Linked DNA regions of Homo sapiens. The protein of the gene in region 4 interacts with the protein of the main gene of each other region in a pairwise test. Each region holds a gene or a part of one and is shown on either strand. Other genes may lie near its edges.

Region 1 (7,035 bases), on a different chromosome or scaffold from region 4:
GTTTAACTACATTAATATTTTTAAACTTCATAAAACATAAGCACTTATAATTAAAGACAAGTCACAGACTGGTAGAAGACACTTGTAAAGCACATAACCACCAAAGAATGTATTTTTTTATTTGTATCCAGAATCTAAAAGAACTCTCAATAAGAAAAAAACTTAACTACTTATTTAAAATAAGTAGGGGACTTGAATAGAGGATACCTGAATAACCAATAAACATATAAAAGATATTTAAAATATTCAAATTCACTAGTAACTACAGAAATGCAAATTAATTTTTTTAAAAATAGAGGATACTATATACTACACAACACACTTGATTGGCCAATATTTTTAAATATCATATTATCCAGTATTGGCAAAGACTGAAAACTCTTGTATATTGTTGATATATGAGTATAAATTATCACAACTACTCTAGAAAACAATTTGGCAATATGTAAAAAGTTGAAAAGATGTCATAATTGTAGCAATGCCATTGCTAAATACCCTGGAGAAACTTTCATACCTGAACAAGGAGACAAGGGCAACATTGCTTGAATATCTCAACAAATGTTCAACATGGATTCAATAAATATTTATTGGGCATCTTCTGTTGTGCCAGGCACCAGAGATACAGCCCTGGCAAAGAGAGACCATGATGCTACTTTCAGGAGATTCTATTCCTGTGAGAATAGGAAATGGGAATAGGGAAAACAACGTGCATGGCCATCCAAAGAGGGATGGCTGTGTCCAGGCTGACCAGCTGGCACCACTAGGAAGACCACATGTGTTGTTAGAGCCGCTGCACATTCTGATGGGTCAGGGCAAATGAAACACTGGTCATTAACTACTTTGAATATTACCTCTGGGATAAATTGTAATTTATTCATCCAACAGGATATTATTCTATACTTACAATGAATTAGTTTTGCATGTCTTCATGTGCGTAAATCTCAAAAACATAATGTTGCATGAAAAGCAAAGCTATAGAAAGGTATCATTCATGCTAAACACACATACTCAAACTACTATTGTTTAAGGAGGCATACTTGTGAAATAAGGGTATTAAAAATATGGATGGGATCAACATATATCAAACACGCACCAGCTTCAGGATAGCAGACGCCACTGGGATGAAGAGAGGCATGGGATGAAGGGGAAGTCTTTAAGGAGTGTCTGCTCTCTTAATGATATTTTATTTCTTATTTAAAAAAAGATCCATCATTCTCAGCAAACTATTGCAAGGACAAAAAACCAAACACCGCATGTTCTCACTCATAGGTGGGAATTGAACAATGAGAACACATGGACACAGGAAGGGGAACATCACACACCGGGGCCTGTTGTGGGGTTGGGGGAGTGGGGAGGGATAGCATTAGGAGATATACCTAATGTTAAATGAAGAATTAATGGGTGCAGCACACCAACATGGCACATGTATACATATGTAACAAACCTGCACGTTGTGCACATGTACTCTAAAACTTAAAGTATAATTTAAAAAAAAGTAAAAAAAAAAAAGATCCAAAGCAAACATACAAACTATTGTCATTTATTAAATCTAGGTGGTAGAACTACAAGCTGCCTATATAACTATTTTCAAACATTTATGTATGTCTGCAATATTTTATAATTATTATTTTCTCAATTTTAAGGGATTCTGTTATCTAAATACTTAATACTTTCACTGTATGGAATCAAATCAACTGACTATAGTTGCAATTCACTTAAAATAAACAAACATGAAAAATTTAATTTTTAAAAAACCAATTAGAGAGTTATTAATCACATTAAAAATGTATTCAGTATTTTTCTGAAATCTATTCCAATTCAGAAAATAGAATGTTTTATGATGCAATTAGAATTATTCAAATTATAATGTGATTTGTATTTAACTTTTCTAAAATATTCCTAGTTCGTAAATCAAAGTACACCTGTTAATTCATCTTTTCTGTACACATTTTACGGATTTCTCTGAGAATAATTTTAGATGCAAATTAAAGTTGCTAGTTTAAAAAGGAATTTTTCCCCCAAGGAAAGAAAGCCTTACAGAATTGTCACAAGCAATGGGATGCTCATATTCTTCCATCCAAAATTCACATCATATTTCATTCTTCAAATTAATCTGGAATATAAGTGTACTGCAAACAACTTGGAAAGAGAATACAGTTTGCTGCTTTTAACAAAAGTTAACTAGAAAGTAAACTAATAATTTACATACAGAGTAGCATTGATGTCTGTGTACCAACGTCCATCAAAGCCTGCGTTACTTCTCTTGTCTTCATTTTTATCCTCTTCTTGGTGTTTCCTCTGAGCCTCTTCCTTGAGTTTGGCTCGTTTAAGACAGTGATCTTTTTCCTGCTCTCTGATTTGTGGTTCAATTACTGAATAGTCCTGCAATGCCTTAATCCTTTCTGAAGGCTCTATTTCTTTACCATCCAACCACTTAAAGAAAAACAATAAATATAGTACAATTGTTCAAAAGTAGCAGTGTGAATCAGCCCCAGGTTGATTTTGATTAGAAATAATAATATACCCGATAGTGATAGAGAATTAAAACAATATAATTAATGGGAAATATCAGAACATTGTTCTAAATTAATGTATATTTCATATAATTTACACAGTTTAAAAAATACCTTTACTAGTAATAATAATAATTAGGTCTGTTAAAACTGATAATTAATACAAGCTCTCAAAATATTTTCTATTAATTTTATAATTGCTCACTATGTCAAAAATGTCAATGCTTAAGTCAAATCATAGCTTCAAAGTACAACAATGGCACTTCCCAAAAGCTCTCTACAGAAAAAAAAGGCCTTGAATATTACACATGATTGGGCTCTAATACAAATGAGCCCATGTTTCACCCTTAACAACAAGACAAACAGATAGGCTATTGTTACAGCATTGTTTACATCTGATACTTCAATTATGATTTTCCAAAGTAAAATATTAAAATAAAAGCATCAACTAAAGTTCTAAAATGTTAAAGCTAACAGTTTAAAGATACCTATTTATCTACCCTGCCTTATTCTGCAAAATGAGGTGAGGTATTTAGGAAGGGGTGGTTGGAAGATAATGGTTCCCCAAGAATGTCCATGTTCTAATCTCCATGAATGTTACCTTACATGGCAAAAGGGGCTTTACAGGTGTGATTAGGTTAAGGATCTTGAATGATCAGGATGATTCTTATAAGGACCACAGAGGTCCTTATAAGTAAAAGAGAAAGACATGAGTGTCAGAGTTAGGGAGAGAGGTAAAGTTGGCACACTGATGTCTTTGGAGATGGAGGAAGAGGCCATGAGCCTAAAAATGCAGGTATCCTCTAGAAGCTGAAAGGGGCAAAGTAAGGGATTCTCTCCTAGAGCCTGAAGAAAGAATAACCCTGCCAACACCTTCATTTTAGCCCAGTGAAACCATTTCAGGCTTTTGATCTCCAGAATCATAAGGTGATACATTTGCATTGTTTTAAGTCACTAAGTTTGTCTCAATTTGTTACAGCAGCAATAAGAAACATAAAAAAGGAAAAAAAAATACACACAAAGATTTAGTCAAATATAAATTAAAAAATTATTAGAATCAGCTGAATTATAAGTCAAAATTATGTAGAGATTTGGAAAAAAGATAATGCCACATATGCTCTGGTCATAAGGACTCATATGGTTGCTATAGATGGGCTGCAGATTTGGTTCTGAGCTTCTTGGCAGCCAAAGCGAAATAGAAAAACATAACTAGTTACACAATTTTCATGGTCTTTAAGGAAAAAATAAAGTTTGTAGCTTTCCTCTAACATGCAGCTCTAAAACACATTTCTAGCACAGAGTTTCATAATGGAGATATTGAGAGATGTCAAGCATTGTTTCTGTAGAAATATGGCCATACAGTCACAGGTTTCATAAGGCTGTTTCTTGTAGTATCCTTCAATAAAGGTATCTTCATACCATTACTTATGAGACCATAATGATAAATTCAATGCAATAAAACCTATTATTTAAGGCATTAAGTAATTGTGGTCCACATACTTAATTTGATCTAATTTAATACAGGATTGGGATCAAATCAATTTGGAAATTTTTGGATAAATGAAATTTACTTATTTTGTAAGTATATATAAGTAAATACACTGATATAAATATATGAATCAACATAAAAGTAAATATATTTATATATAACTAATACTATATAAATAAAGCACTTTCATAAATTTCTGTTAAGTCATCCAGTTTGTGGCACTTTGTTATATTAATTTATATAGTATAATTTATATATAAATATATATTAACATAAATACATTATATATAACTGTATATTATAACAAGCTAGAAAACTCTAGATAATTTCTTTCAACTAGGATTTCTTCCCAACAGAACCCTGGGGAGCAAGGTGATCTTTTCTTCCTTGTAATTGAAGTACATTAATTGATTGATTGATTGATTGATTTCTGTCTTATAAATGATGTAAGTCTATTTTGATTTAATTAGAACTACATTCCTAAAAGGCTATGACAACTGAACCCTCTGTCACTTTACTGACAGGAGGCAAAAGACCTCATATTAATAACTGATGACAAATTTGGGACTGTACCCCAGCACCTATTCTAGGAACCTCACTTTTTTAGTGATTTCTGTTAGTCTTTGAAATTGGCCCACATTTCCTTCAATCCAAAATCATGTCTGAGTTTAGAAGGCCTAAGAATCAGAGATCCAGTTTTAAGCTGAGCGTTTCTTGATCTTTCTTCACCCAGGATTCCTGCAGCACAAAGGTGGAGTGTCCACACTTATTGATAATAACTGTGCAAGTGCTGAAGCAGAGAGAGGGACACTAAGATGTACTGAAGGCCTCACAGAACTCCCTTGAAGTAGGAATTATGATCCTACTATACATGAGTAAAATGAGGCACACAATTCACAGGCAGTGGAAGCAGGGGTCAGACCTTGGTTTGTCTGCTAACAAATCTGTTTCCCACTATACTGCAGGGCCCACCTACTTCTGGAGTGGCTCAGACACTGGGAAGAAAAACCTTGAAAAGGGCTGACTCTCCTCACACCTCTTCTATGTGACTATCTAAAATAACTACTCTGTTGTTTTGGGTTGAATTGACAAAAAAAGATGTTGAAGTCCTAATCCCCAGTAGCTCAAATCATGGACTTTTGGGAAATAGGGTTATTATAGATGTCCCCTGACAAAAAAAGATGTTGAAGTCCTAACCCCCAGTAGCTCAAATCAGGGACTTTCTGGAAACAGGGTCACTATGGATATAATTCACTGAGACTAAATTATCCTGGAGCAGGTGGGCCCCAAGCCAATATGACTGGTGTCTTTATAAAGAGTCTTGTGAAGAGGAAGGCAGAGACCCTCAGGGTAATGTGTCTACAAGCTCAAGAATGCCAAAGATTGGCCAGCAAATCAGCAGAAGCTAGGAGGGAGGGCATGAAGCAGATTCTCCCTCGCAGCCCCTGGAAGGAACCAGTCCCGTCAACATCTTGAACTTGAACGTCTGGCCTTCAGAACTACAAGATGATACATTTCTGTTGTCTAAGCCATCTAGTTTGCAGTACTTTGTTACAGCAGCCCTAGGAAAATAATACATTTATTAACACAATTCCTTTTAAGCAGCTCACAAGCTTTCAATGAAATGGTAATTAAGACTCTAAAGCATATCAACCTATTTTTACATAGTAGTAAACATATGAATACCATTTTTCAAAAAGGGGCTGTTTTCTATTGAAGCAGTTAATTTGGAGAAGTCTTTCTGAAAGGAAAGACTTGATCCAAAGCCTATAATTTAACCCGGAGAGAAGCAGTGAATGTGGGTATAGTGTGAATGGTGGAGGCATCAAGGTCCGACTCACATAGGTTCAGATCCCACCTGTGTCACTTGCCAGATATGTCAGCCTAAACAAGCAGTGTTCATTCCCTGAGCCCTGACTTCCTCATCTCTGAATGTACCTAATTGTCTCCCTGAATGGGTCTGGGAGGATCAAAAACACTGTGCCCAAAGTACCTGGCACAACCTCTGACCCTGTCTGCAGCAGCCATATGATGGCTCTCACACCTCTAGCCTGACCAGGCTCAGCTGCAGCACTGACACAGGCTCAGCTGCGGTGGCCATGAGGACTCCTGGACCCTTAGCCCTTCCAAGGGAACGGCTCACAGCATTACACTACAAGATCTAGTCCTATGATAGTCTGGGTCTCATCAGTTCATTTTCTAGGAAATCACTGTATAATAATGATCAGTTTAGGTTATGTATGAGACAATTTATCATTTATTCTATATTCAATTACTTGAATCACTCATTCTCTTAATCTGAGAAATTTTACATTAGAAGAAATGTGTTCCATTAATCCAGCAGTCAGCAGTCTCTTGACTGCAGAGAACACAGAAGTCTAAGAAACAAACGTCCTTTGAGAACTGAAAAAATGCCTATTGAACAGGCGATGTATCCATGCATTCTCTTTCCAGGAACATGGAGCCACATGCAGGCTGGGAACTCTTAGAATTACATGAAACGTAACATTGCTATCTTAATATTCTCTGTTGTATGATTTCTCAAGAAATAATATTTTTTCCTCAGTTCTAAAATTACTCGATTGGGGGGATATGGTATAAGAGTAACATACGCAGTAGTGGTTGTCAAATGAGGTTCCTGCACCAGCAGCAGAATTACCAGATTTTGTTAGAAATGTGAAATCTCAGGCCCCATGTCAGACCTGACCCAGAAACCCTGGGGGAGGAGCACAGCAGTCTGTGTTTTGAAAAGGCCTCCACGTGCTCTGATGCACACCAAAGACTGTGAACCTGCCGGGCACGGTGGCTCATGCCTGTAATCCCAGCACTTTGGGAGGCCGAGGCAGGTGGATCACCTGAGGTCAGGAGTTCAAGACCAGCCTGGCCAACATGGTGAAACCACATCTCTACTAAAAATACAAAAGTAGGCAGACATGGTGGCACATGCCTGTAATCCCAGCTACTTGGGAAGCTGAGGCAGGACAATCACTTGAACCTGGTAGGCAGAGTTTGCAGTGAGCCGAGATCGTGCCA
Region 2 (3,946 bases), on a different chromosome or scaffold from region 4:
GGCTCTCTCCCGGCTGCGAAGTCCGCGGTGCGGCCCCTCTGCACCCACCCGCCGCAGCCCCGCCCCGGCCCAAGCAGATTGGTCCTCAGTGGCGCCCCGTCCCTCCCCCGGCTAAGTTTCATTGGACGTTGCGGAAGTGGCGGTTCGTCGAGCCCCTCTGGGGGCGGGGCTTCTAGCGCGGAGGGGCGGGAGGCGGAGCCAGGAACCAGCAGGACTCCCCTGGGCGCCTCCAGCAGCCGCCGACCCCGAGGGCCCGACGAGCCCTGTAGGTGGTGTGGTGACCGCCGAGCTGACTTGGCGTCCCAAAGCCTCCCTGGCCGTGACCCTAGACCGCATCGGCTTCTTCGTCTACCAAGCAGGGCTAACAGCCCTCACGGAATTGTTTTGGGAAAACGATGAAAGGAGAAAATGGATGCAAGCTTTAAGCCACACAAAAGCTGGTTACCATGGACAGCGCTGGCTCGAGTCTGTCGGCCACGGAAACACTGCATGCTTGGGCCAGTAATGATTTAGGACGAGTATTTTATTAGATTTGGTACTTTACAAGATTCAAGTTCTTAAACTCAAGATCTGGCATCGTTCCCTTCCCTGCTAACCTTCAGTCCCGAATTAAACGCAGACGTCTTGACCCGCAGCCCAGCTGCTCTCCAGCCTCGCTGCTCCCTCCGCTCACAGCTCCGCATCCTCTGCCTTCCTCACAGGCTTCCGTCCGCACCCCCGTCCTACCGGCTGACACTGTCCAACTCTCCAAGACCCATCTCAAATCCTACCTCCCGCAAACCCTTCCTAAATTTCCTCACCTAGGCCTGCTACAGCGTTCTTATTTTCCACATTTCTTTTCTGGCTCTCGGACTACTCAGCTGCCAAAGCGCATCCATTGCTGTACTCCCTCTCTGCCTGGCCTACTTCAGTGGAAAAGCATGAGGACGGGCTGCGCTCTGCTCCTCACACAATCCCCAGCCCAGAGCACCCTGCTTATTTATTGAACATAACAGTGCAGGCCGGCCTAGGCTTCCCATAGGCAAGGATGACTTTCAGAATGTTCTAGAAAAAAGGATACTTCAGGGGGCCCATAACTGCTTGATTCAAATCTTTCCTTTAAAAACATAAAAACAACAGTTGGACTTCTAAAACACACACTGAAGACATACGCGCTGCCACGTAAGCTCTCCACATGTTCACTTTGCCTTCAGGGAAACTGTGTGCACATCAACGTGCCCTGGGAAAGGCTGCAGGGCTGCACTGCGGGCAGTTCAGATCCTAGAGCACTTGCTCTGGCCTGGGAGCGCTGCAGGCAACTGAAGCCACACAGACCCTGCTCCTGCAAGAACTTTTGTGTGTGTCCCATGGTGATGTCATTAGTTTGCTTATTAATTATATTTATATAAACTTCTGGTCCTGTTTTAAATGTCTGAGATTGCAAGGTCAACTGTTATAAACCTGTCATCACTTCCATCTATGTATCCAAGACTAGGAGAATTCTCCAAATCAACTGAAACATAAAAATAGATGTTAAAGTTGATTTTAACCCAAATTTTGTATTGATCAAAACAGCTTCATTGTTCTTTATAACAAAGAATTGTTATAAACTTGAATTTATGTAACAAAACAAAATAACCAATTTTATATTCGCTTTACATATTGGGGTTCCACAAAAAAATTTTAATTTGGGGGGAAAAAAGCTGTATTTCAAAACATTAAAAAAAAAAACCACCATCATGGAAATCTTAGGATGAAATGGCCTTCTTAATGGAGAAAGGCAGGAGATAAACCATCCAGCAGAGGGCTCTGTGTAAAAACATTTATTTTTACTAATGTTTAGAATACAGGAACTAAAGAAAGAAAAAAAAAAGACACCTCAACTCCAAAGCGACAGTGAGTTAGGGCCTGCCCACGGCCAAGGGGGAAGGCTACTCCAGGGTGTCCTGGCATGGACTGTCCCCCCACTACTTAATGTCAGTGCCACTAAGCAGAAAACTTGAGGAATCAGGGTGTGAAGACCTTACCAGCTGCTAGCGAGCGTGCAAGGGAAGAAAGGGATGTCTATGTGGCTTCCCCATGAGCTGAGAGCCAGGATACACGGGGCAGGTGGCAGAGGCTCCCAATTCAGTTAAGAGCAGGAGGCTGAATGCCCAGGTCCAGGAAGAACAAAAAGGGGATTTTGGAGGTAGGCTTTTTTGTTGTGTTAAAAAACAGGCACATTATCCATCTCCTTGTGGCCCCCGAGCTGCTGGCCTGGCCCCCTGATCCTTCCCCTCTCCCCACAAAACCAAAAGGAGTAGGAAGGGAGGCAGAAGATGAGAAATTCCAAGGGTGGGGAATGCTTCAGTCACTGGAGACCGACCGTAAGAGTGAGCCAGGAGAGCAATGGGAATAACAAGGTGAAGCTACTGTTCCCCCTGGGGTGGGGTGGAATGGGACAGGGCAGAACCAGGAGGGTGACCGAGAACATCCTGACTCCAGAAAAGAACACTCTGTAGCAGGAACACAGGGCCGCAGAGAGCCACTCTGGAGGAAAGAGGTGAGGCTATGCGGCACAGGGGCATGAAAAGCTCCTTGTGGACGTGGCCTCAGCTTGCTCGCTCCCAGCTCCCTGGCCTGGCTTGCCTCTAGAGGACAGGAAAACTCTGGAGACCAGAGGGGAGGCAGAACACAGAGAAGTGAGCTGCTCTCCCACTCTTTCTAGGAGGACACTGTTTGAACCCTGTGATCACCAGGGGCTGGGCCCAAGGCAAGCAGAGTGAATGCACTTAATGGAGAGCAGAGAGAAACTGGGCCACACGCACGCCTAGGGGCAGTGTGTTGCTCCTTTCTCCCTGAGGGCCTGGGGCCAGAGGTGGTCAGAGCTGCCACCTCAGCTTGCAGCTGCCAAAGGCAGGCTGGCACAACCACCCCAAGGTTCTCTGGATTTGTGAAGGAGAGGAGGAAGAAGGGAAAGATGGGTATGAAATATGAAGTGGAGGAGAGAAACAGCCTTAGATATGTCGGGGAGCAGGTGGGTGGCCACATCAAGAGGAGTTCTGGTTCTGGTAGATGGAAGCTTTCTCTTTCAACAGGTCCAGACACAGGTGGCAGCTCCAACTTCCTGCAGAGAGGCAAAATGGGGTCAGGATGGGTCCCACACAATCCCCACCTGCTTGCAATTCCTCTGCTCTTGATACCCCATCTCTATAGCAGGATCAGCTACAGGTAGGACGAGGGATGCTCTGCAGCAGGAAAGTTCCATGGTTTCCTGAGCTGGGATAAACCTCTAAGTCTTCAAATATTATGAAATATCATCCTCTATGGAGATGAAAGAAATAATCATCTAGAGGACTTCAGAATACTGATGCCCAGGCCCTCTTGGCCCTATTAAATCAGAAGTTTTGGGAGTAGGAAGAGGGCCTGGGAAGACAGAAGTTTGTCAAGCACCTCAGTTTTAAGACTTGTGTAGTTTCACTAAAAAACACAAAATAATTGTCCCTTATATGAAAAACAATTGGGTCATTCCTTGTTTATTAATATTGACTATGGCTGAATTCTTCTAATTTTTTTTGAATAAAATTAGTCCTTAATGCCTTGAAATGATAAGCAAAATTATACCTATGCGCATTTGGACATTATTCTAGGGCTTTTATCAGCTCTTCAGAAACAGGTGACTCAAAAATGTAAGTCCTTTCTAACCCAAAGGTCAATACGGTTGGCAAAGTTTTCTGTAAAGAGCCAGAGTGTTAAATATTTTAGGGTGTGTGAGCCACATACAGTCTCATGCATTTTTTTTTTAACTCCCTTTATTTTTTTTTTTTCTGAGACAAGAGTTTCCGCTCTGTTGCTCAGGCTGGAGTACAGCAGTGTGATCTCAGCTTACTCTAACCTCTGCCTCCCAGATTCAAGCAATTCTCTTGCCTCAGCCTCTATAGTAGCTGAGATTACAAGCGCACAGCACCACGCCCAGCTAATTTCTCTA
Region 3 (7,035 bases), on a different chromosome or scaffold from region 4:
CTTATAATCCTAGAAGTAGACATACAGTATTATTGTGCCTATGTTATAGATGATGAAAGTGGGCTCAGAGAACTGACTTGCCCAAGATCATAGGAAGATGAAATAAAATCTGAAGTGTCCATCCTAGTGTCAAGTGGTAGGTGCTGACCAAATTTAAGTTCAAAAATGAAAACAAGTATCTAACTCATCCATAAAGAAGTGGAAATGGAGGACCATGAAACTTGCCAGGGGCTGAGCTAGGACCAGAACCTGGGGCCCTAAGCCTCGTGGCCCTGGCGTCTCTGAGCCAGACCTGTAGGTATGAGCTGCCAGGATCCAGGTGTGACTCGGGTATTTCTAGGGTGAAACCTAGGATTTCGAAACTGAGAAAAAAAAAAAACTTACAAAGCTAAGGTCCTCCATTGAGATGGTCTCACATAACATGTCACTCTAATAAAATATTTAAATACTTAGGCATCGAATTAGAGACTAAGCTGCAGCCACCCATCTTCCCCCGTCATTCCCCTCTATCCCCCCCAAAAAAAATTCTAGCTTTTTTTTTAACATTCAAATATCCATCAAAATCAAAGTTCCTTTTGAAGATGAAATTAAGCCAACAAGCACCTATGAAGTATAAGGGACTGTTCTAGGCACTAAAAGTATATACAAAGCTTAACAGTCTCTGCATTCAAGGAATTTCTAAGCACACGGTGGACAGCATAAACAGCCCAATAAATCCATGTACTGGGCAGCCTGGATTGAGCCACGACAGAGTTCTGGGGAGCAGAAGGGAAGACTTCAGGGAACAGGCACTAGAAGGCGGTAGAGATGGATTTTTGATGAGTGGAAGACAATGGGGAAGCTCATTATGCCTGGCAAATTAGTTTCTAGCATTTCAGGGACTGGGAGGAAAGGAAGGCAGTGGTGGGAAATTAAGTGTAGAAAGGTCAGATGTGGTCAGATGTAGAGGGCTGTCAAAGCTGGCTAAGTTTACAGTCTTTACAGTGTTGTATAGTAGATAATGAAGAAGGAGCATGGTTGGATTTTTGGATTATTTTGTTTTAAGCACAGAGACTACATGATTAGAATTGGAATTGGGACTACTACACTCTAGCAAAAGTACATAAAATGGATTACAGGAAGAACAAGAACCAACGGCAAGTGATTTATGGTTACAGTAAGTTACTTTAAAAAACTTCCCCCCTCAAGGATTTTTCTACTAAGAAAGGGCCCCTCAAGGATTTTTCTACTAAGAAAGGAAAGAAAGTTTAGTTAAAAAAAAAAAAAAGACAACTTGAGGTTCTATAGTGAACCTAAAAAGTAAAACTAAACAAAGAAAGCACAATAGGCCCTTCTCTAGCAATACTGCATGTTCTTGCCTGAATCTTCAATATTTTGTGTTTAAAAGGGGTTTTGTTGGCCTGGCCTGGTGGCTCACACCTGTAGTTTCAGTACTTTGGGAGGCCTGGGCAACATGGCAGAACCCCATCTCTATAAAAATAAATAAAAGGGTCCCAAACAGTATATCCTTACAGCTTCCAAGCAATGCTCAAATGAAATTATCCTGACAACTTCAAAAAGATGGAACTTCAGGGTCTCACATTAGAATAAAAAATAGATGTTATTGACACCTGGAATTGAGTTTTTCATTTTGTTTTCTTCCCACTGACAAAGAATTGAGGTTACTATCATATTATTTGATTCTTTGTATTCTGGAATTATTTTTGTATGGCAACAATAAGTATTTTGGCCTCATTTTGTAAAGAAAAACTAATGTTTAATATAAGATAGGCACATGTACTCCAGAACTTGAGAATCATTGTACCTTCTAAAGAATCAAAAATTAGCTTGATTTAATAAGGAGGTATTGACACTGTACTGAACACGGAGAACACTAAGTAACAAGGTACCAAATGAATCCAATACAAGATGTGAAAGCCTGCATTATACACCAGCAAACCCAGGGTCTGTAAGGCTGGGATTGTGTTAGGACCGGGGCAGGAAAACGTAGTCACTACAGACTCACCAAAAACAGGGACAGAAACTCACCCACAAATCAATATCAAAACAAGATGCAAAATTAAAGTAAATGTCATACCGGTTTAAGATGGAAATAATCGAGAGAAAGGGGGTACAAATTCTATGTATAATTAACCAAGACAACTAATCTTGCTTGGCAAACAGACACATAGCACTGAATCTGAGCCCAATCAACGGCTCCTGGCAATCTGCCAAAGCTGAACTCCTTAGTCTGGCACCATCAAATGATTTGTCTGTTGTATTTACAATTCCAGTGCCTCTGGATTCAGCTACCCACTGGGCACCCCTGGCAGATGCCCAGCAAAATAGATCTGAACTATCATTACTGTCAGAACATGTGCATTTGACAAACACTAGAGAAAAGCGACACCCGTTTCTTAGAGCAATATCACTTAACAACTACAAAGTGCTGCTACCAAGGAATTGTGGAGTCTGTTGCCGTAATAATTAACAAAAAGTTAATAACCTTCTCCATAATGTTAACCTGCAAGCTACTTCTTGGTCTTCAGTGGGCACAGATCAAAATGTAATTTAATTTACCTAGGGCTGCAAAGTTGGGTCAAAAGCAGAGGCCTTGCCAAACCAAACATGGCCCACAGGTGAGCAGCCTTCCAAGCTTTATCCGGAAGTACACAAGATGCTGGCAGTGCTTAAACTCTGCTCATTAGAGGTTGGGTAGAACGCCACCCTGACCTTTAAGCTTCCTCAGAGAAATCTTTCATACATGGTGTGTTCTTGGGATAGGGTCATAAAATGGAGGGCTGTTTGTTACTTATGAAATTACAAGTTTTTCCAGGAGATTCAGGAATCAGGAAAAATTTTACCAATTTTGCTTGAGCTGAAGCAGAAAGGTTAGAAAGGGAAATCATTCATGATACTCCAAAACCTTATGCAGAGACAGGCTTGCATAACTCCACTTAAGGGTGTTTATCAATTTTCAGTCAGAATTATATTTAAAATTCCCAAATAAAATGGTGATGCCACTGAATTAACCTACTGACCCTGGTCCCAGTCTGTCTGACCCAGCCAGCGTAGCCCCTTCTCTATTTTCTTTTTAATTATTATTATTATTTTTCTTGAGATGGAGTCTTGGTCTGTTGCCCAGGCTGGAGTGCAATGGTGCAATCTCGGCTCACTGCAACCTCCACCTCCCAGGTTCAAGCAATTCTCCTGCCTCAGCCTCCTGAGTACCTGGGACTACAGGCGCAAACCACCATGCCCGGCTAGACTTTGTATTTTTAGTAGAGATGGGGTTTCACCATGTTGGCCAGGCTGGTCTCAAACTCCTGACCTTGTGATCTGCCCGCCTCGGCCTCCCAAAGTGCTGGGATTACAGGTGTGAGCCACTGCACCCAGCCACCCTTTCTCTATTAAAGTACCTTTTATCCATCCCTTCCCAAGGATCTGCTCAAGATATCATCTCTCCAAATATGAAAACAACTGCTGAATGACTGAGACATTGGATAGATGTGACTTCTAATATCTCTCTAGCCCTAAAAACCCATATTATTAACATCCTGTATAGTTTTGATCACTTGTTCTGGTTGCTTCATTTTAAATTAACAGAGAAATTGGAGAAAACCCAAAGAGAAACAATGACTAATGAGCGTAAACGTGCACTTTTTAACCAGAAAAAGAGAAAGAATTGGTGACAACCACTGCACACTACACTCAACTCTCAGCTTAGTTCTTCAGGTGGTTTTGTAATCACTGGGCACTTCCCTTCCCCATCCACGGACAGGTCTCCCACAGTGTGCAGCACTGAGTGATCTGTGAATGAATTAAATCGATATCCCTTTATTATCCACTTCTCTGAAGCAGATAAGGTTATAGTGAAGTGGCCAGTGGCCCAAAATTGAGCAAAAGAAATTACAAATTAAACACACACACCCTCCTGCCTTTTTTGTTTCCAAATGTCATTCACAAAATAGACAAAAAACCCCATGAAAACTTGCCCATTGGAGAGACTTGTTTCACTGTCACTGGGACTGTATTCTGTAAATTATTACTGTGGAGTAATTTCCTTCCTACAGGAGCTAAGTTATTTTTAATACAAAAGCTTTTATAGGAATCCCTTACATCCTTACAGAAAGATGATCCAGAGCTTCAAACTCAGCACTCCTTCTCCCCAAAATACCTTATTCACAGTGTTCCAGAGCTTCAAACTCAGCAGCACTCCTCCCCAAAATACCTTATTCACAGGTAGATTTCTAAGATTCTAATTGCAGAGATACCATTTATGGTATCCAGCTCTCAAACTCTGTGCTCTAAGAGCTATAACTCTCATGGGCCCTGGCAACCATATTTGTGATGCATGGTTTCCACATGCCTCCCACTGTGCCAGACTACGGCTGATAGATCCCTTGAGCCAAGGTGAGACAATCAGACTTTCTCCCAGGCGATGAAAACAGGGATCCAGGAATGTTACTGAAGTCTCTGCTCATCTGCAACTAAAGGCTGAGGTGGCCATTGTGGGGCAGCCATCTTGAGCCATGTGCATGGGAAGGCAGCAAAAGCTGGATTGAAAAGAGGATAAGAAATGAAGAGCAAAAGCAGGGAAGCAAAGATGGAGGTCATGAGGCTCCTGAGAAAAGAACACACCAGCTGTCCTGGATGTTAAGGACTTTCTGCTTCCTAGTTCATACCTCTAAGCTTCTGAGAACCCTGACTGCATTTCTTGCACTTGGATCCTGCGAGATCACTTCATAGTACATTGCTTCATTTTTCCCTTAAAGTAGTTTGCAACCATGATAAGCTCCATTAAATAATGTATATTCCTGACCTCACATGAGAAGGGTGGGCCAAAACTGTTATTGCTCAACAGCAAGGAATAAACACACCACCTTGCAACACATCTTCTTTAATTCATAAATGTTTTGCTGTTTCATCATTCCTCCTTATTGTTTCCAGGGGAGGACCAATTGGTCTGTTCACAATGCAGTCCTCACAATGCCACCTTCCAGAGCTAGTCTGGTCAGGAATCCTACGAACAAACCCTATCAATAAATGTTTTCCTAAAAATAACAGTAGAAGCCGGGCGCGGTGGCTCACACCTGTAATCCCAGCACTTTGGGAGGCACCAAGGCAGGCGAATCACCTGAGGTCGGGAGTTAGAGATCAGCCTGACCAACAAGGAGAAACCCCGTCTCTACTAAAAATACAAAATTAGCCGGGCATGGTGGCGCACGCCTGTAATCCCAGCTACTCAGGAGGCTGAGGCAGGAGAATCGCTTGAACCCAGGAGGCGGAGGTTGTGGTGGGCCAAGATTGCGCCATTGAACTCCAACCTGCGCAACAGGAGCAAAACTCTGTCTCAATAAATAAATAAATAAATAAAACAGTAGGAAAACATCAGCACAGTACTCTATTTTTTTCTTCAAATGTACTCAACTGACCCACTTCAATGTTTGAGGGTTTTCTTAAGCCTAAGAATTAGTCAAGTGTGAATGAGACCATCCTACAATTCAAAGTATACGAAAGTATAAATTCGTTCATCATGGCACCACCACCCCTGCACAGCATCCCACACAGGCTGAACACTCCATAACATTTGCTGAATAAATGAAAGGTCGGAAGTAGGAGAGAATAAAAGGAAATAACACAGTCTCTGGAGTTACACAAATCTAGGTTAGGATCCCAAATTTCCCCTCTGGAGACTTAAAACACTGATGAAGGCTCGGAATTCTGCTAAACATTTCATAAACATCATCTTATTTAATGCTTCTTCCTCCAACAGCTTTACGGCATTATTTCCTTTCATTTTGCACCTGGTGTAAACCAAGCAACTTGCCTAAAGCCACGAAGTTAGTTAACACTGAGCCTGAGCTCCCAGCCCCCATTTAAACTGTTTCTTACCACTGACTTTGAAACTTTGGGCACAGTATTTAATCACTCAATATGTTTAAGACTGTGTTTCTGAAGATTAAGCAAGATAGTATTTGTAAAGTGCATAGCACAGTGCCAGACAATACAAACTGCTCAATAAAAGGTAGTTCTTCTTATTAGAGTCACTAACTAGTGAGTCTACAGTGAGCTGTTTGAAGCAGAGGGACTTTTGGTTCTAAAAATTATACATTCTCTGGAAAACAGCCATTTTCAAGATCTAGGCAGCCAAAGAAAAAGGAGCAAATTATGACCAATATTTATCTTGGATATGGTCTAAAATCTCCAAAAGGGAGTAGCGAGCGGATAAATCCTTTGCTAGCCTGAAAGCAATGATCATGCTTGAAGTTAGGGGGGGCCATACAGCTGTACATTACAGGAACCACTTCCCAAGGGGTCTTCAACACCCTTGGATTTTTCTCCAGCAAAGATGAGGTAGACAAATTCTGACCATTAACAACTTTCTTGGCAGGAAGCAGAACCATCTAATATTTCTTTCTATATTCTTCCACAATTTCAATTTTAGGTCCAGTGTATCTTTCTGTTTTACTCCCAATATCTTTGCTATTGTTTCATTGAGATAAAGGGCAATATTATTCAATGATCTTTCCAAGTCTAGCAAAGAACAAAAAAAGAAATGAAATTTGGGTAAGTGCATGAATAAGCATAACCTCAAGAAATTTAAAGTAGCTAAAAAAAATTGGTCTAAAACAAATGTACATATTGGCAATTGTTGAAATTGGGTGATGGGAGCTCATTATATTAGCCTCTTATGTTTATGTATGTTTGAAAATTTCCTTAATTAAAACTTAAAAATAAATTTAAGGGCCGGGCACAGTGGCTCAAGCCTGTAATCCCAGAACTTTGGGAGGCCGAGGCGGGTGGATCATGAGGTCAAGAGATCGAGACCAGCCCGGCCAACATGGTGAAACCCCGTCTCTACTAAAAATACAAAAATTAGCTGGGCAGGGTGGCGTGCCTGTGGTCCCAGCTATGCAGCAGGCTGAGGCAGGAGAATCACTTGAACCCAGGAGGCAGAGATTGCAGTGAGCCGCTACAGCCTGGCGACAGAGCAAGACTCCATCTCAAAAAAATAATAATAATAAATAAATTTAAAACTTTAGTTTTTCTTGA
Region 4 (7,567 bases):
TTTTGTATATATTGAAATAAAATATAGTATTGAAATTAAATTCATGTGTTTCATTTCACCTTTTAATATGGGTAGCAGAAAATTTTAAATTACATATGTGGTTTGCATTATATTTCTATTTGATGACACTGGTATAGAGCAATGGTTCCCAACTAAGGATGACTTTGCCCCGAGGGGAAATCTGGCAGCATCTAGAGACATTTTTGCTTGTCACAACTGGAGCTAGTGCTACTGGCATCTAGTGGATGGTGGCCAGGGATGCTGCTAAAAATCCTACAACATATAGGACAGCCCTCCACAACAAACAGTTATCCAACCCCAATGTCAACAGTGCAGAGACCGAGAAACCCTGCTATAGAGAATGGTTAAAGAATGGACTCTACCTGGGCACAGTGGCTCATGCCTGTAATCCCAGCACTTTGAGAGGCTGAGGCAGGAGGATCACTTGAGCCCAGGAGTTCCAGACCAGCCTAGGTAACATAATGAGAACGCATCTCTACAAAAATGTAAAAATTAGGCAGGTATGGTGGTGTGTGCCTGTAGTCCCAGCTACTCAGGAGGCTGAGGTGGGAGGATCTCTTGAGCCTAAGAGGCCAAGGCTGCAGTGAGCCGTGATTGCACCACTGCACTCCAGCCTGGGTGACAGAGCAAGGCTGTCTCTAAAAACGAAACAAAACAAAACAAGAATGGATTCTAGAGTCAGAATGCCCAGTTTAAATACCATTTACTAGCTTTGCAACTTTGGGCAAACTCCCTAACATCTCTTTGATTCATACTCATCTATAAAATGTACCAATAACAGTAACTCCTTCACAGGGCTTGGGGGGATTAAATCAGCTAAGACGTTTAAGGTACTTAGAACAGAGCCTGGCACATAGTATGTGCTCAATAAGTATTAGACGATACGAAAGTTTTATTTACTCTATTTCATAAAAATTTTCTCATTAACTTTGTTATAGCTAACTCTCTACAATTTTGCCAATCTTGTTATAACTAACCTATTTTTATTTTAAAAACTTTTAAAATTTCCTTAAGTCGGGAAAAAGCAATCTTCTATCATGCATAGGTTGTAAATACAAACAGATATTATAGCAGAATCATTATTAAAGCACATCAGAAACACAACCTTCTTTTTTATTTTATTTTATTTTTTTTTGAGACAGGGTCTCTATTGCCCAGACTGGAGTGCAGTGATGGAATCTCAGCCCACCACAACCTCTGCCTCCGGGTTCAGCTATTCTCCTGCCTCAGCCTCCCGAGTAGCTGGGATTACAGTCGCGTGCCACTACCGCGCAGCTAATTTTTGTATTTTTAGTAGAGACGGGGTTTCACCATGTTGGTCAGGCTGGTCGTGAACGCTTCTCATGCAAAGCTCCTCACCCAGGTTTGCCTTAAGCAGGAGGTCCCAGTGTTTCAGCCCAGTAAGTACCTGTGATGTCAAAATGCTGTGATACTTACATATGGAAGCAGAAATCCCAGTCGATGTCATTGCTAACAGTTGGGATACGGATGGGGCTGGCTTGCATCTTCTTCCTACCAAGAATCAGGTAAGGTCAGCTTTGAGAGAAAAGGCTGGGTGTCTGTTCTATTTTCCCCCTCTGGTTTGCTATTAACATTAAACTAAAACTGCTCAAATATATAACCCATCCTAAATCCACAGACTACGCATACTTAGATATGGAGACCGCTGGAAAACAGACATTTGCCAAATTAAATGTCTAAGTTAAATTTCTTTCCCCTAATTTCAACTCCACCCTACTTCTCCAAAATCCCTGGCCTTTATGTCTCAAAGCAAGCACATTTACAGTTCCTGGGTCATCAAAACTATGGTCACCTACTTAACTCAGATATTGTTTTTGCAGGTCTGACGGCGTGTTGGATTTAAGCAAAGCAACCAACTCTCAGTGGTAAACGAAGCACAGCCAGTGTATTGGTTAATTCTGCTTTCCCCCCCCCCCCCGGGGTCATTTCACTAATTAATAGCAGATTCTAGTACAGGGGTCACGAGGCGGGTACAGAGGCTCACGCCTGTAATCCCAGCACTGTGGGAAGCCGAGGCGGGTGGATCACCCGAGTTCAGGAGTTCGAGACCAGCCTGGCCAACAGGGTGAAACCCCGTCTCTACTAAAAATACAAAATATAGTCGGCTGTGGTGGTGCACGCCTGTAGTTCCAGCTACTCGGGAGGCTGAGGCAGGAGAATCGCTTGAACCCGGGAGGCGGAGATCGCGCCACTGCACTCCAGCCTGGGCGACAGAGCGAGACTCCGTCTCAAAATAAAATAAAACAATAAAATGAAATTCATGTGTCTGTTTTAGTTGTTGCTGTTAGATGATAGGAGAAACCTCGGAAGCACAAAACGAAAAATGTGATTTCTAAATACAGTATTTGTGAAATTCAACTCTCAAGGAAGGCTATGCCAGTCGCTTAAATCAAACCCAAATCGAACGCAGTTACTTATTGAATGTTAACATCCACCAAGTCGCCTCTCCTTTCACCCTCCAGAATCACTAATTCCCACCGAGCCCTGAGTGGCTTTCTGACCCAGGCTCCAGAGCATCCATTATCCGAAAATCAGAAAGGGAGAGTCACTAATTTCTCTTTTTAACCTCCACTTTAAACACTATGCCCACAGCAAAGAGTTCTGATCTCTCAAACTCCCGGACTCTGTTCCTATGACGTTCCGCACGGCCCTGAGCCCCTCAAGGACGAATCGCTCCTCTTTTCCCGCTGTGGTTCTGCGGCAAGTCTGTAAGCCCTGACGCCGCAGGTCGAGCTCTGAGAGCCTCTCTGCCGCGGAGGCTCTAAGAGAACGCGCGAGTGCGCAAAGGGCACCTGGCTCAAGGCGGAGAAACCACGCCCCGGAACCAGCCTCCCAGCTCCCTGAGCCCGACGGCGCGGCTTCCTCCCGCTGCGTCGGCCTCCTGACCCTGGCGCACCTCGGTCCGGGCGCCAAAGCGGTGCCTCGCGAAAGCTGCACAGCCTGCGACGTCCCCAGTTACCTTCCGCAGCCCAGGTCCGGCCAAGGAGACAATACCGTTGCCATGGGAACGGAACGCTACGGGTTCTGCTGGGAGCGCCTGTAGCCATGGCGACGCGGGGCACTTCCGGTTCGGAGAGTCCCTGTTGTCTGGCGCCTACAGCAGCCCTTGCCTTACCCTCCGCTTTCCCTTCCCCGCAGGTTAGACGCGCCCGGCCTCCGGCTCGCCCCAAAACTGGCCTCTGCATATTGTATCTCACGAGACCTTACCCCTCGGAGGTGAAGGCGTAGGAAGAGAAGATACATTCCGTCCAAGGATGGAAGGGAGCGCCGGGCCCCACGGCCCTACTTATTTAAAGCTGCGACGTGTGCGGGCTGTATTCGGCGACGATCCTGGCCACGGTGCACCCCCACAGCTCCTCGGGAGTTTTGTTTTTATGGACCCCAGAGGAAAGGCTTAGATATGGCTGTTGACTGTGCTGGCACCGTCTGTGTTACCCAGTAAGATTGGAGCTAGGCATGGTTAGGAAAGCTGATTGCAGGAAGAGAGTAGGGTAAGAAATCGACTACTAGATCTGCTAATGGTTAGCTGTTCATTATTTATTTAGCACTTAGCCCTAAATAATGCAGCCATATCTTACCCTTTCGTTGGCATGGAATACAGTGTGTGTAATACACACAAGGTGCAGAGGCAATTGTGGCCATACCCAAAGAAACAGCGCCAGCTCTTGCAACGCTATGTTGAAGGATGTTATTATGAACCCTATCATAGACTAGGCCTATGGCAAGTCAAGTTGGAGTGAATGTGTCCCAGTTGTTTTCAGAAAAGAGCAGACTAGGTAGAGAGACAAGGAGAACATTGAGAATGTGAAAGATGGTGTTTACGTTTGGTGTTTGTTATTTCCAGCTCTAGGCTGGAAGTTTAATTGCCATTGATCCAAGACTGCCAAGAAAGCCTTTTTGGAGTTAGGTTGGAGGAGTTATTTAAATGAGTTTGCTTGAATATCTCTTAAGTAAAACCTGTATGGTCTGTTAACTCAAGATTTAAATCTGTACTTTCGAGCTCCATAGTCACAATTTTGGAAAGATTCCCCCACTTTATTCTTTTTCCTAAGAAAACTCTCAGCATGGAACAATGATGACAGCAATGAACCTGATTTCAGAATGTCAAGGTTCTGGTTTTGACTCTGTAGCCTGGGCCGAGTCACGGCCAGTGGGTCCCAATTTTCTTGCCTATACGGTGAAAGTTTTTGTACCACTTGCTTTCTGAAGCGCCTTCTGGTTCCAGGTTTCTGTAAGGGGTAAACGATTTTTGTGACTCTATGAACAGTATTTAACATGTATGGGAGTAAAAAGGAAGAACCTGTTTCCTGTTCTCCAACATTTATTTCTTTTACCCCTTGTTAAGTTGGTCATCAAATTGAAAGGTTTTAATGTTCTTTCATTCTAGGAAATGGCTGTGAGATTGTTTCTAAGTATATTAAAGGTAATGTCTCTTTTCTAAACCTTTGCTTTTGCTGATAATTGTGGAGAGAAGAACCAGAACAGGCACTGAATTCCCATTCCTAAAGCCAACGCTCTAATTCGGCCTCCATTTCATTAGCTCTGACCGGAAGCATGTTGCCTGCATCTGTAAAAATTATAAATCAAAATAAAATAACTTTGGCGACTATTTTTTTTCTTTTTTTGAGACAGAGTCTCACTCTGTGGCCCAGGTTGGAGTGCAGTGGTGTGATCTTGGCTCAGTGCAACCTCCGCCTCCCGGGTTCAAGCAATTCTGCTGCCTCAGCCTCCCGAGTAGCTGGGATTACAGATGTGTGCCACTACTGTCTGTCTAGTTTTTGTATTTTTAGTAGAGACAGGGTTTCACTGTGTTGGCCAGGCTAGTCTCGAACTCCTGACCTCAGGTGATCTGCCTGCCTCAGCCTCCCAAAGTGCCGGGATTACAGGTGTGAGCCACCGTCCAGCCAGAACTTTGAGGACTCTTGAAGTTTTTTGGTATTTCTTTCCTTGTCATGTTAACCCTGTCCCCCAAATGTAAGCTTTAGTTGTAGTATATACACTTTTAGGTTTGTTCACTAACTCTAGAATGGCATCCCACTAATCTAAGTGGATAGTGCGTTTCCACCGTGTGTATTCACATTCCCTCCCCTGATCCGGAGGTAGAGGTGGCAAGCATTGCTATTGCAGAAATTGCATAGAGGAAGCAGTATGGGGGGTTTTTCTAGGCTCTAACAACCCCAAATCAAATGTGATTATCTCCAAGCTATTCTTATCCCAGGAACTGTGAAATTTAAGGCAAGGAAATCCAAATAAACTTTCGCTTGGAACACATTTTTATGGCCTCTCAAGAGAGGGTTAGATGCCTTGCTTCTGAGCCCTCGCAGTACCCTGTCCACAATCTCATCATGACTCTCACATTGTACTGGCACTTCTGTTTATTTGCAAGTTTCTCCAATCTCCATACATCTATCCATCCACCCAGACAAAAATATTTGTGGAATACCTACTATGTGCCAGATAATGTTCTAAGCAGTAGGAAAGCAAAAGTGAACAAATAAGATAATGATTTTGCTTTCCAGGAATTTATATTCTACTAGATGAAGAAAAACAGAGCTGCTAGTAAACAGTATGGTGTCTCTGCAAGTTACAAAAAGGCAGAAGGCTTAGGGAGTATGCAGTGACAGTGTATGAATTTGGAAAAAGCCTTTTCCTCCAGCCAGACTCAGACCCCTGCTAAGGAGTACAGCTTTGGGAACAGAGAGTGGGCTGGATTTCAGGACTCACTGACTCCCTTAGCCAGAAGAGTCACCTTAAGAAAAAGTGGGCTGGGCACAGTGGCTCACGCCTGTAATCCCAGCACTTTGGGAGGCCAAGGCGGGTGGATCACCAGATCAGGATTTCGAGACCAGCCTGGCCAACATGGCAAAACCCCATCTCTACTAAAAGTAAAAAATTAGCTGGGTGTGGTGGCGGGTGCCTGTAATCTCAGCTACTTGGGAGGCTGAGGCAGGAGAATTGCTTGAACGTGGGAGGCAGAGGTTGCAGTGAGCCGAGATTGTTCCATTGCACTCCAGCCTGGGTGACAAGAGCAAGAATCCATCTTAAAAAAAAAAAAAAAGAAAAAAGAAAAAGAAAACATGATAAACAGTTATGGAGAAAAATAAAACCAGGTAAGGGATTTAGAAGGTGATGTGGCCATGGCGGGAGGGGTGTGCCATCTTACATAGTGTAGTTAAACAGGGCCTCTCTGACAAGATGACATTGAGAAGATACCTCAAATCGTGCAACAAATTGTGCAAATATTTAGGAGAAGAACATTCTAAGATGTTAACAGCAAGTGCAAAAGCCCTGAGGCAGGAACAAGTTTAATGGGGTCAAAGAACAGCCAAGGGTAGTAAGAATGAGGAGGAAAGAGACAAAAGACTGTGTCAGTAAAGTGGTGGGGCATCAGGTCATGGAGGGCCTTATAGGCAATTCATCCGTCTAAATATTCATCTACCCACTCAGTGAATACAGAATACCTGCTAGGTAGCAGGCCCTGATTGGCCAGCTATGAGCTCCTCGTGAGCAGGAGTTGTTATCATTGAGCCTTTAGCATTCAGCACAGTGCCTGGGATATATCAGTGTTAAAAAAGAAAAACAAAACAAAAAAAACACATAAACTACAAATGACCTTTAGGAACTCCATTAGTAGAGATTCTCCCTGTGTGTATCAGTTTCCTATTGTTGCTGTAATGTCACCACAAACTCAGTGGCTTAACAAACCACAACTTTATTATTGTATAATTCTGGAGGTTGAAAGTCTGAAATGGGTGTCACTGGGCTAAAGACAAGCTGTCTGCAAGGGTGGCTCCTTCTGGGAGCTCAAGGAGAAAATTTTTTCTTACCTTTTCCAGCCTCTAGAGCCTGGCTGCATTCCTTGATTTGTTCTCTTCATCTTCAAAGCCAGCAGCAATGCAGCATCTTCAAATCTCTGACCCTTCTTTCCATTTTTAAAAGACCCCTCTTGTTATACTGGGCCCACCTGGATAATCTTATTTAAAGGTCAGCAGATTAGCAGGCTTAATTCTATCAGCAACCTTAATTCCTCCTTGTCATGTAACTTATTCACAGGTTAGATTCACAGCTAACATATTCACAGGTTCTGAGGATTAGGACATGGATGTCTTTGGGAGGACTTATTCTGCCTACTAGAGTGTGTAACTTAAATGCATGGTTTTAAAAACATATGGAGGTGACACATAAGGAGCCCTCTTCTCCTGGCTGTTAGCAGCTTGCATCATTTGACTGTGTCCTGCTTCTTTCCATCCCTTACTGATATGGTTTGGCTGTGTCCCCACCCAAATCTCATCTTGAATTCCCACATGTTGTGGGGGGAACGTGGTGGGAGATAATTGAATCATGAGGGTGGGTCTTTCCTATGCTGTTCTTGTGATAGTGGATAAGTCTTACAAGATCTGATGGTTTTAAAAACGGGAGTTTCCCTGCACAAGCTCTCTCTTTGCCTGCTGCCATCCATTTAAGACGTGACTTGCTCCTCCTTGCCTTCTACCATGACTGAGAGGCCTCACTAGCCACGTGGAAC

What was found.
Region 1: the proteins of TTC23L (region 4) and DNAAF11 interact in binary tests that used the Homo sapiens proteins (3 or more experiments, as listed by UniProt).
Region 2: the proteins of TTC23L (region 4) and DPF2 interact in binary tests that used the Homo sapiens proteins (3 or more experiments, as listed by UniProt).
Region 3: the proteins of TTC23L (region 4) and EGLN3 interact in binary tests that used the Homo sapiens proteins (3 or more experiments, as listed by UniProt).

What each region holds. Positions count from the first base shown.
Region 1 is NC_000008.11:132,630,531-132,637,565, forward strand, and holds part of DNAAF11 (dynein axonemal assembly factor 11), read right to left. Parts: intron 2,434-7,035; coding exon 2,210-2,433; intron 1-2,209. UniProt on the Homo sapiens protein: Involved in dynein arm assembly, is important for expression and transporting outer dynein arm (ODA) proteins from the cytoplasm to the cilia. Acts as a crucial component in the formation and motility of spermatozoal flagella.
Region 2 is NC_000011.10:65,350,822-65,354,767, reverse strand, and holds the end of DPF2 (zinc finger protein ubi-d4), read right to left. Parts: intron 3,086-3,946; coding exon 3,009-3,085; 3' UTR 506-3,008; downstream 1-505. UniProt on the Homo sapiens protein: Plays an active role in transcriptional regulation by binding modified histones H3 and H4. Is a negative regulator of myeloid differentiation of hematopoietic progenitor cells. Might also have a role in the development and maturation of lymphoid cells.
Region 3 is NC_000014.9:33,941,043-33,948,077, forward strand, and holds part of EGLN3 (prolyl hydroxylase EGLN3), read right to left. Parts: intron 1-7,035. UniProt on the Homo sapiens protein: Prolyl hydroxylase that mediates hydroxylation of proline residues in target proteins, such as PKM, TELO2, ATF4 and HIF1A. Target proteins are preferentially recognized via a LXXLAP motif.
Region 4 is NC_000005.10:34,834,631-34,842,197, reverse strand, and holds the start of TTC23L (tetratricopeptide repeat protein 23-like), read right to left. Parts: upstream 3,035-7,567; 5' UTR 2,939-3,034; exon of another isoform or gene 2,835-2,938; intron 2,818-2,834; exon of another isoform or gene 2,564-2,817; coding exon of another isoform or gene 2,544-2,563; intron 1,534-2,543; coding exon of another isoform or gene 1,527-1,533; coding exon 1,459-1,526; intron 41-1,458; exon of another isoform or gene 1-40.